2 separate regions of the Homo sapiens genome follow, and region 1 is linked to region 2. The links come from fine-mapping of genetic effects on gene expression. A gene starts in region 2. The other region holds a variant in brackets. All regions are shown on one strand. Distances are between the middles of the regions.

What was found. PIP is the estimated chance that this variant, and not a neighbour inherited with it, causes the effect. A credible set is the group of variants that fine-mapping cannot tell apart.
Region 1: its variant is the best candidate, but not a certain one, in a credible set for the expression of DIP2C in macrophages (Nedelec 2016, PIP 0.67).

The regions. Positions count from the first base shown.
Region 1 is chr10:385,900-390,232 of GRCh38, reverse strand. DIP2C (disco interacting protein 2 homolog C) reads left to right here. Exons shown (of 37, transcript NM_014974.3): 13 at 140-242; 14 at 2,424-2,488. Among named protein-coding and RNA genes, the nearest start is that of DIP2C-AS2, 240 kb to the left of the region's middle. The variant T/C (reference allele first, on the strand shown) is at 2,185.
Region 2 is chr10:687,369-691,744 of GRCh38, reverse strand. DIP2C (disco interacting protein 2 homolog C) reads left to right here and starts at 2,077. Exons shown (of 37, transcript NM_014974.3): 1 at 2,077-2,251. The coding sequence starts at 2,167. RefSeq lists an enhancer at 767-1,702.

The sequences.
Region 1 (4,333 bases), 300 kb after region 2:
TGAGTGTGGCCTTGGCACTAACGTGTGTTTCTGACGGTTACACGAGTGCCAAAATTCAGGGACTTGGAGAACCTCAAGTAACCAGAAAAACTGCCGTGACCTGTCAGCCCCACTTCCCTCACGCTTTGTCTCGTTTCAGTACAAGACGTGTAAGGATGGCAGTGTGCTGGGTGTGACGGTGACGAGGACTGCGCTGCTGACACACTGCCAGGCCCTGACGCAGGCGTGTGGCTACACGGAAGGTGGGGTGCCAGACCCTGACTCCTTGGGACCCTGGTTCTAACCGGGACACCTGACACGAAGGCCACATCACTCCCACGAGGAGCCATAGAAATAGCGTGAAGTTTGTGCCCAGCTCCGCTGACATGAACTTATTGTTGAGTTAGGATATCAGCTCAGCCTACCATAGCAAATACTACAGACTGGGCGGCTTCAACAGCAGACATTTATGTCCGCACAGCGCGGAGGTCTGAGGTCAGCGTGTCCTTGGGCAGTTCCCAGTGGGGGTCTCTTCCAGGTTTCTCGTAGGAGGTGTGAGAAGATGTGCAGTTAGGAACCCATCCCTACCACCCCACTGAATGCAAAGGACCTCCTGAAAGGTGCGCTCTCCACACAGCCACGCCGGGGCCTGGGCTTCAGCATGTGGATCTGGGGAGACGCTGTTAACGCCGTGGAGCTTCATCCCTGGGTGCACATGAGCATATCTTTAGTTGTAAAGAAAACGCCTGTGTGTCCACCCACCCTCCCAATTGAGTCAGAGTCTCTGCATTGGTGCTCGTGATGTGTTTTCCTTCCCCCGGGTGGGCTGGTATGGGAGGCAAAGAGGGGAAGTGAGTGGAGGGAACTTGAGTGGAGGGAACTGTGGCAACCACACTGAAATGGCACAGAGAGGGGAGGGTGCGACCCCGGGGACCCCAGAGACTCCCCCCATTGGTGGCCTGAGTCCTGCTGATATCCCCTGAAACCTCCTGAGATGTTCTGAGACGTTGTGATGTACCCTGAGGCCCTTTGAGACCCCTTGAGAACCCCCATGCCCCTGAGATCCCTTGGGATGCCCTGAGGCCCTTTGAGACCCCAGAGAACCCCCATGCCCCTGAGATCCCTTGGGATGCCCCAAGGCCCCTTGAGACCTCAGAGAACCCCCAGAGAACCCCCATGCCCCTGAGATCCCTTGGGATGGCCCGAGGCCCCTTGAGACCCCAGAGAACCCCCAGAGAATCCCCGTGGCCCTGAGATCCCTTGGGATGCCCCGAGGCCCCTTGAGACTCCAGAGAACCCCCCCATGTCCCTGAGATCCCTTAGGATGCCCCAAGGCCCCTTGAGACCCCCTCCGGAGACCCCCTGAGGCTCCCTGACATCCCCTTGACCAGGCTCCTGACAGGGCACCGCTGCGGCGTGCACCCCTGCCTGGCGTCTCTTTCTGGAACTTCACGAAGCCGTGGTGGCATCTGCCGCTCCGCTGTGGAATGAAACACTTTTCTTTTTCTACTATTTTTATTATCTGCCCATCCTCATAATCTCCCTTTTAAAAACAGCGTGTGTGTCTCGTGGGTATTCTGATGTTTGGCCATGGAGTTTTCACACCTGGGGACGCACTGCCCCCTGCGCCTCCAAGGTCCAGGGTGGTCACGCTTGTGGAGGTTGGGGAGGGAATGATACGTTCGCTCTTTACTTCACTACTTTCAAAAGGAACTTAGGTTGTTTACTTTTGGCCATTTATTGTGAAAGCCTCCTGTCTATTATCCTCCACACTTTAGCCTTTGGAAGGGGAGGTGAGACTGAGTCACCTGCAGGCAGCTGCTGACCTTGGCTGGCCAGGTGACTTCGGGAGAAAGCTAGGTCTGTTCAGGGCCAGCATGCTCTGTGATGGTAAACCTCATCAAGCACGAGCTTTTAGCACCTTTTTAGAGCCCTCCCCCATAGTCATTGAATAGATTGTCCTCCCCGTCTTCCAAATTGCAGTGCCTCCTTTTTTTATTGCAGCTCCAACCTTGGAGACTTGCAGTAGAGCTGTGTAGGCCCCTGTGTTGCCAAAAATCCACTTCCTCCTCTGTGCGCAGAGGGCATGCCAGCTGCAAAGCTTCCTTTCCTGGGAGACTCATGAGGAAGTGAAAAGAAATCTTTTAAAGAAAAAGGCAGAGAGGGGGAAATATATAAAAGGAGAAGGAACGCTGCGTTTTAAGG[T/C]GCAGTGTGGAGAGCTAACGCTGCTCACTCATGTGTCAGGATATCTGTCGAGAAACTCCAGGGTGGCCGGCACTCAAACCGGCCTACTTGGAGTCTACAGAATTTCCACCAAGATACGGCAAAATGATATTTTCCCAAGATCTGTTATTTCCCCTGATGCAATATTGGATTTTGTTTGCATTTTGATCTGTTGCCGCCCTGTCCTAAGTAAAAATCTCCTGACTCCCTCTGTTGTGCAGCTGAAACCATTGTGAATGTGCTGGATTTCAAGAAGGACGTCGGGCTCTGGCATGGCATCCTGACAGTAAGTGAGGTCCCCCCGGCCGTGTCTGTCCACAAAGGAGTCCCCCACCCTGCCCTGCCTGTCCACACAGGAGTCCCCCTCCCCATACTGTCTGTCCACACAGGAGTCCCCTCCCCACACTGTCTGTCCACACAGGAGTCTCCCTCCCACCCTGCCTGTCCACACAGGAGTCGCCCCCCACCCCGCCCTGCCTGTCCACACAGGAGTCCCCTCCCCTCACTGTCTGTCCACACAGGAGTCGCCCCCCCGCCGCCCGCACTGCCTGTCCACACAGGAGTCCCCTCCCCTCACTGTCTGTCCACACAGGAGTGTGCTGGGTGTAGGAATACAAATGCCTAGATTTGCCTACGTTTCACTTGTGCAAGCTGCTTCCTGCCACACTGTGAAGCAGAAAATCGTCACTGTTAGAAGACCGAGGTTGTCCACTAACGTGGTTCACAACTGCACCACAAAGCCAGTTGTGTCAGCAGCCACTGGTGTGAGGGTCTTGGACACGTGGATTGAGGTTACAGCTGCCGAAAACAGCCTTCCAGGGCTCACGTGGAGATCATTATCTTTCTTCCCGCACTTTTGGCATTCAGTATCTTAGAATAACGTCAAAGGTTGGTTCGTGTGTGGGCTACTGTCCCGTACATCTGGTTAGCTGGATGTTTCTGTTTGTTGAGTCGGTGGGGCCTGCTATTGTGTTACTCTGCGGGGGAAAGTAGTTTCCAGATTTGCCCTTGAGGATGGCAGTCTGTGTGTGTTGTAGGGAAACGACTGTCTCACAGTCACGAGTGCCCTGGATGACGTGCCGGGCTTGGGCACTTTTCGTGGGGAAGTAGCCTTGTTATTTGTTTAAGGTGGGCCTGGCCCTTAAAAGCTACGTGGAGCATGACTGCTTAGACGCTCCCCCCATCTGTTTCATATGTGGTAATTTTCACTCATTTTTCTTTTGAATAATTTCTTACGCTGAAGCTTCTTACCTTTTGGAGGTAGAAAATTCTAGGAGTTGTCACATGAGTGATGGGCATATGAATACAGGAATTCCTGTATTCGCCGTTTCTTGGCGAACCAGAATTCATGTGAAGAGGAGCCGGCAAGCATTTCCTAGACCAAATATCTGTGGCTGCAGAGCAGCCCGGCTGGCTTCTTTCCGTGTTACACACAGGTCGTCTCTCAAGTCTGGATGCTGTTGGGGGATAAGATGGAGCAGCGTGTTCCCAGCACCACTGTGTGCTGGTGCAGTGGGGAGCCCCTGCTTTGGGATTGAAGGACCTGGGATAAGATGGAGCAGCTTGTTCCCAGCACCGTTATGTGCTGGTGCAGTGGGAGCCCCTGCTTTGGGATTGGAGGACCTGGGCTTGTGTCTCAGCCTTTCCTTTCTTAGCTTTGTGACTCAGGCATGTCAGACGTGCGTCCAAGTCCCTTCTCAAATCCAAACCTCAGTTTTTCTGTCTGTGAATGGAACGACGATCCTATTTGACGTGGCCGGTGTGAGAATTCTGTGGCCTAAAGTTGAAGCACTCACTCCACCTACACGTTTGACGCATGTGATTCAATGATCAGGTCCCAAAGAACAGACAGCTACATCACTGGTGCCGTTAGTCACTCTCGTCATTAGAACACCCAACTTTCCGGCTGTGACGTTGTCCACACAGCCCTGCTTTCGAGGCCTCGTCGCGGGGCCGCCTCTCTGAGGAGCTCCCGCTGGTGGTGCCAGCCTGCCTGCTCCGTGCTCCGGGGTACAGCTGGCAGCCCTGGCAGGTGCGAGTCTCTCCACTGTCACATCTAAAGCGAGGTCTCTGAGCAGGCAGCAGCATCTTTTGAGACACCCTTACCTCCCCCAGCAGAGTGGCGGGGAGT
Region 2 (4,376 bases):
TTGCTTGGAATGCACAGTGCATCTTTGCTGTAATGAAATGAACTCAGGGCTTTGCTTTGGAGACTGGGGTTTGAATCCTGGTTCTGCTCCCCTTTCTGTCTCTAAGGACTTTTATCTGTGACGTGTAGGGGCTGTGTGGGATCTTCCCCACGGCCCCTGCATTGCTGGTCGGTCTCTTTATCATGCAAAGGGGAGAGATGATGGTGGGGCCACATGCTTGTGCCACCCGTATCTGTTGCATTGAACGCAGTCTGGAGCGAAGGACGAACCCACGGCGCACACCAGGCGGAGGCACACGGCTCGGCGCAGGAAGCACACGGGTTTGGGGTTCCTGTTTCCCAGCTCATCGTCGAATGTCATTCTCACAATTCCCCACTGAAAGGACCGATCCTTACAGGAAATGCACACACCTCTGGCGGTTGCCACCACTGCTAGATCCATGGGAAGGGCAAAGGTGGGTGAGGCATGGGCTCTGTCCTCCAGGCGCTTACACTCACAAAGAATACAGAGAAGATAAAAAAGGTCAAACGTGATGAGGGCGGGAAGTGGCCGGTGCAGGAAGAGAAAGGAGAGAGATTGTTCTGGACCTGGGGTCAGGGATGGCTGTGGGTGGCAGGGGCAGAGAAGGGGCAGGCTCTCCGGGGTGGAGGCCGGGAGCAGAGGTGCTGCGGGTCAGCCGCGTTGTTTGCAGGAGCCGGAGTGTGGAGGCCGCAAGGCTGCCGTGCAGGTGGGTCCCGGCTGGTGGGGGCTCCGGTCGAAGCGGGGTGGGGGGGTGGTGGGGGGTAGGGGTAGGGGGGTGAGGTGGGGGACCTGTGTTCCTGCGGCCCACTCTGAAAGGGGAGTGAGTGCAGCTGGGCCTCCGGGAGCCAGCGCTGGCCAATGTCCCGTGGAGGACGGGGAGGCGAGGAGGTCTTTAGGAAGCTCTGGGCCTAAGGGAGGGGCCGGGCTGGGAAGAGGGGGTACAAGGATGAAAAGGAGGCCAGGTCGTCGGGGCTTTGTGCAACAGACTGGGGAGGATGTGTGGAGACAGAGGAAGGTGATGATGAAGACAACGGGGGCGGTTCTGAGAAGCAGAACTTCCAGTGACTAAGAGTCACTGGAAGCAGCTGGCTTCATTTAGGGTTTGTGGCGTTTGGGGTGTCTAGGGGCTTCCAGGGAAGTTTGCTCAGTGGACGGTTGGAGATGCGAGGGCCTCCCCAGATGGTCAGGACTAGAGGCACAGACGGGGCTTCAGCCTCGCCGAGGTGGCACTGAGGCTGGGAGCTGATGGCCCCACAAGGAGAAGGACGGTGGGAACCCTGGGGCCTGCAGCCTGTTCCGGGAGGGCTGGAGCCAGGCTTTTCGGGCCCACCTGGCATTTGGAGATTAGGTGACCCAACCTTGTCTTCCCATCCCCTTTTCACAGATGGGGACACTGACCCTCCAGGCAAAGGCTCAGAGTCGCTCAAGGTCATCTGCTGGTCGTTGCATTCGAAACTTCCAGCCTAGCGCTCCGTCTCCGCCTCTTAAAATGTTCATTAACAAAAAACCAGCCCTCCAAGACCCGGGGCACTGCGAGTTTTCGCGCAGACGTCAAGCTGCGGCTCCAGGACGTGATTTTCGCAGGGAGCCGGGTGGACCAGGCTCTGGGGCCGGGCCCGCAGGCTCCGCTGGACGCGCAGAGCCCAGGACAGACAAGACCGCCCCGCCCCGCCCCGCCCCGCGGGCCCCGAGCCCCCAACCCGCCCCCGAGCGCGCCCCCGGGAGCGCGCGCTTCGCCGACGCGGCCGCGCGCCCCCCCGCGCGCTCCCGCTCCTGCGCGTCCTCGCGCCCCGCGCGCGCGCGCCCTGCCCCCGCGGCCCCGTGACGCGCGCGCGCAGAGACGCTCCCGCCGGGCCGGGGCCGAGAGCAGCAGGGCCGGGTCCGGGTCCGCAGCGCCTGCGGGGAGGGGCCGAGCGCGCGCGGGGCGGGCCGGGGACCGTGGGGCGCGGGGGCGCGCGAGGCGGCCGTGGCGGGGCCGCGCTGAGGAGGCGCCGAGGGGAGGGAGGTCCCTGCGCGCCCGCCGCCCGCCTCCCGCGCCCGCGCCGCCGCCTCCTCCTCGGTGCGGTTCCGCCGGGCGCGAGGAGCCGCCGAGACCTCCGCCTGCGAACAAAGAGGAGGCCGTGCGGGGCGCGGCGCCCGCGGAGCATGGCGGACCGCAGCCTGGAGGGCATGGCGCTGCCCCTGGAGGTGCGGGCGCGCCTGGCCGAGCTGGAGCTGGAGCTGTCGGAAGGTAACCGGGCCCCCGCCCCGGGCCGGGCCGCGCTGTCACCGGGGAGGGCCGCGCGCGGAGGGCTGGGGGCGCGGGGCCTGCGGCGGGGCGGGGGCCGGGCCCGGAGGGGGAGGTGCGACCCCAGCCCGGAGCGTGCGCGTCCCCCGGACCCCCAGACCCCGCGCCCTAGGGACGTTTGTGAGGCCGCGATCCCCCGCGCTCTGGGGACGTTTGTGGGGCCGCGATTCCCCGCGCCCTGGGGGTGTCTGTGGGGCCTGGGATCCCCTCGCGCTCTGGGGGTGTTTGTGGGGCCGCGATCCCCCGCGCCCTGGGATGTTTGTGGGGCCGCGATCCCCCCGCGCCCTGGGGGTGTCTGTGGGGCCTGGGCGCCGCGCGGGGACGCAGGATGCAGCGGGCCCGGCGGGATCGGCCTTCCCGTGCGCTCTGCGCTGGAGCCGCGGCGTCCTTGGTGCAGCAGCGCGGTGCGCGCCACCTCCTCGCTGGCGGGTTCGGCCTGGAACGCCCGGCCAGATTTCAATGCGAAACTTGTCGTTGGACCCCGGGTTCGATCTCTGGTGGCTCAGGCCGTGCAGCGGTCCTGGCGCGGCCCGGGGGATCCCACCCCCATTGTTCGCGGGCGCTGCGCGGGGAGGGCTGGGCGGAATCGTCAACCTCCCCCCGGGCCGGGCTCCGGCCTTGCCGTCCTGGTCCTCTCGTAGGAGGGTTTGTGGCAGATCAGCCACCGCGGTCTTATGGAGGGTTGTGTACGCCTCTTATTTGCTCTTCATGGCGGAGATCATGTGCTCAACTGTCATAAGTTTCAGATCGGGCTTTGCCAGGTCTTTTCCCCAAAACCACTGAAGTTCCCAAATCTGAAATGTTTGATGTGCATTTAGCCGTCTCTGGGCTCATCCTGGTCAGGCCATTCCTGTAACGTGGGGTGGGGTGGGGGTGGGCCGGCGCGTCTCACATTTATATTTGGAGCAGTTTAGCATGGTGAACTTTTTTTGGGTAACGGTTTTGTGAGGGCCGGCAGCCAGAAAGTAAACTCATTCGTGCCAATTTTCACCGGCAGGGAGGAGCTGGTGTTGACTTTATGTTTTCCTTTTTAACACTTTCAGGGCAAAGAAGGGAGTGAGCAGGGGCCATGGTGTGCAGCCAACTGCCTTTCCAGACTTCTGGGGACGGGAAATGGTACTGTTTTTCAGTTTCAGATGTGGGGTTCCGCGAGGTGTGTCAGTGTCCTGTAACGTGACACAGTTGGCGGGGGGCAGAGTCTTCCAGGCCTGTGGGCTTGGCTGCTGCCCTCCTGAGGAGCTGAGGATGAGGAGGGCATGGCTAGGAGGCGGGAGCTGCCGTGTGCAGGGTTCGGATGTAAACTGGTAAGTAGATTGTGCAGTGCAGACAGCTCGTTTGGTGGGTAAGGAGTGTATCATTTGCAAAAGGCCCACCCTGGTTATCTGATTGTGTCAGCCTTGGGTAGGTTTCCCGGCTTGCGTCTCGGCCCAGGTGCACCCCTGCCTGCAGCACCCTCCGTGTTCGCTGTCTCAGGACAGGGGCTTCTGTGCTGCCTGCATCACACTGATGTGAAGTGTCAGTGCCCCATCCAGGTCAGCAGAGCGTAGCGCCCCTGAGCTCAGCAGGGCGAGCCCCATCTGAGGGTTCCCCCACCCACTGCTAGCCCAGAAGTTGGACCCACATTTGTTCCCAGAGTCTGGGATGTCTATGGGAATGGGTGTCCTGTGTTGGGCATTGTGGCCTTTTGAGGTGACGACACTTGCCTGTCAGTTGCTCTTGGAGGGTGAGTGATACTGTCTTGCTGCCCAGATGATGGCAAAGCCACTTTCGACGAAGGTGTGCTCAGCCGAATTCCCTGTGAACACCTTGCGTCTGTACAGGTTTTTTAAAAAGGGCTTAATGAGTTAGTTTCTTATTGAGAGACCAGGCAGAGAAAGGGGTGTGTGTGTTTGCATGCAGGAAGCCTAATTATATTTTTCCTTCCACATGAATCTTGCTGAGATCTGAGCTACACATTTAAGAAGAAAGGGTGAGAGGGTTGCTCCGTGGCTCTATTCAGCCTCTCTGCACCCTCCGGCCTGTGCTGGCCCCACTGCCTCATCTGTTTGCTGGATGGTCTTTAACTTTG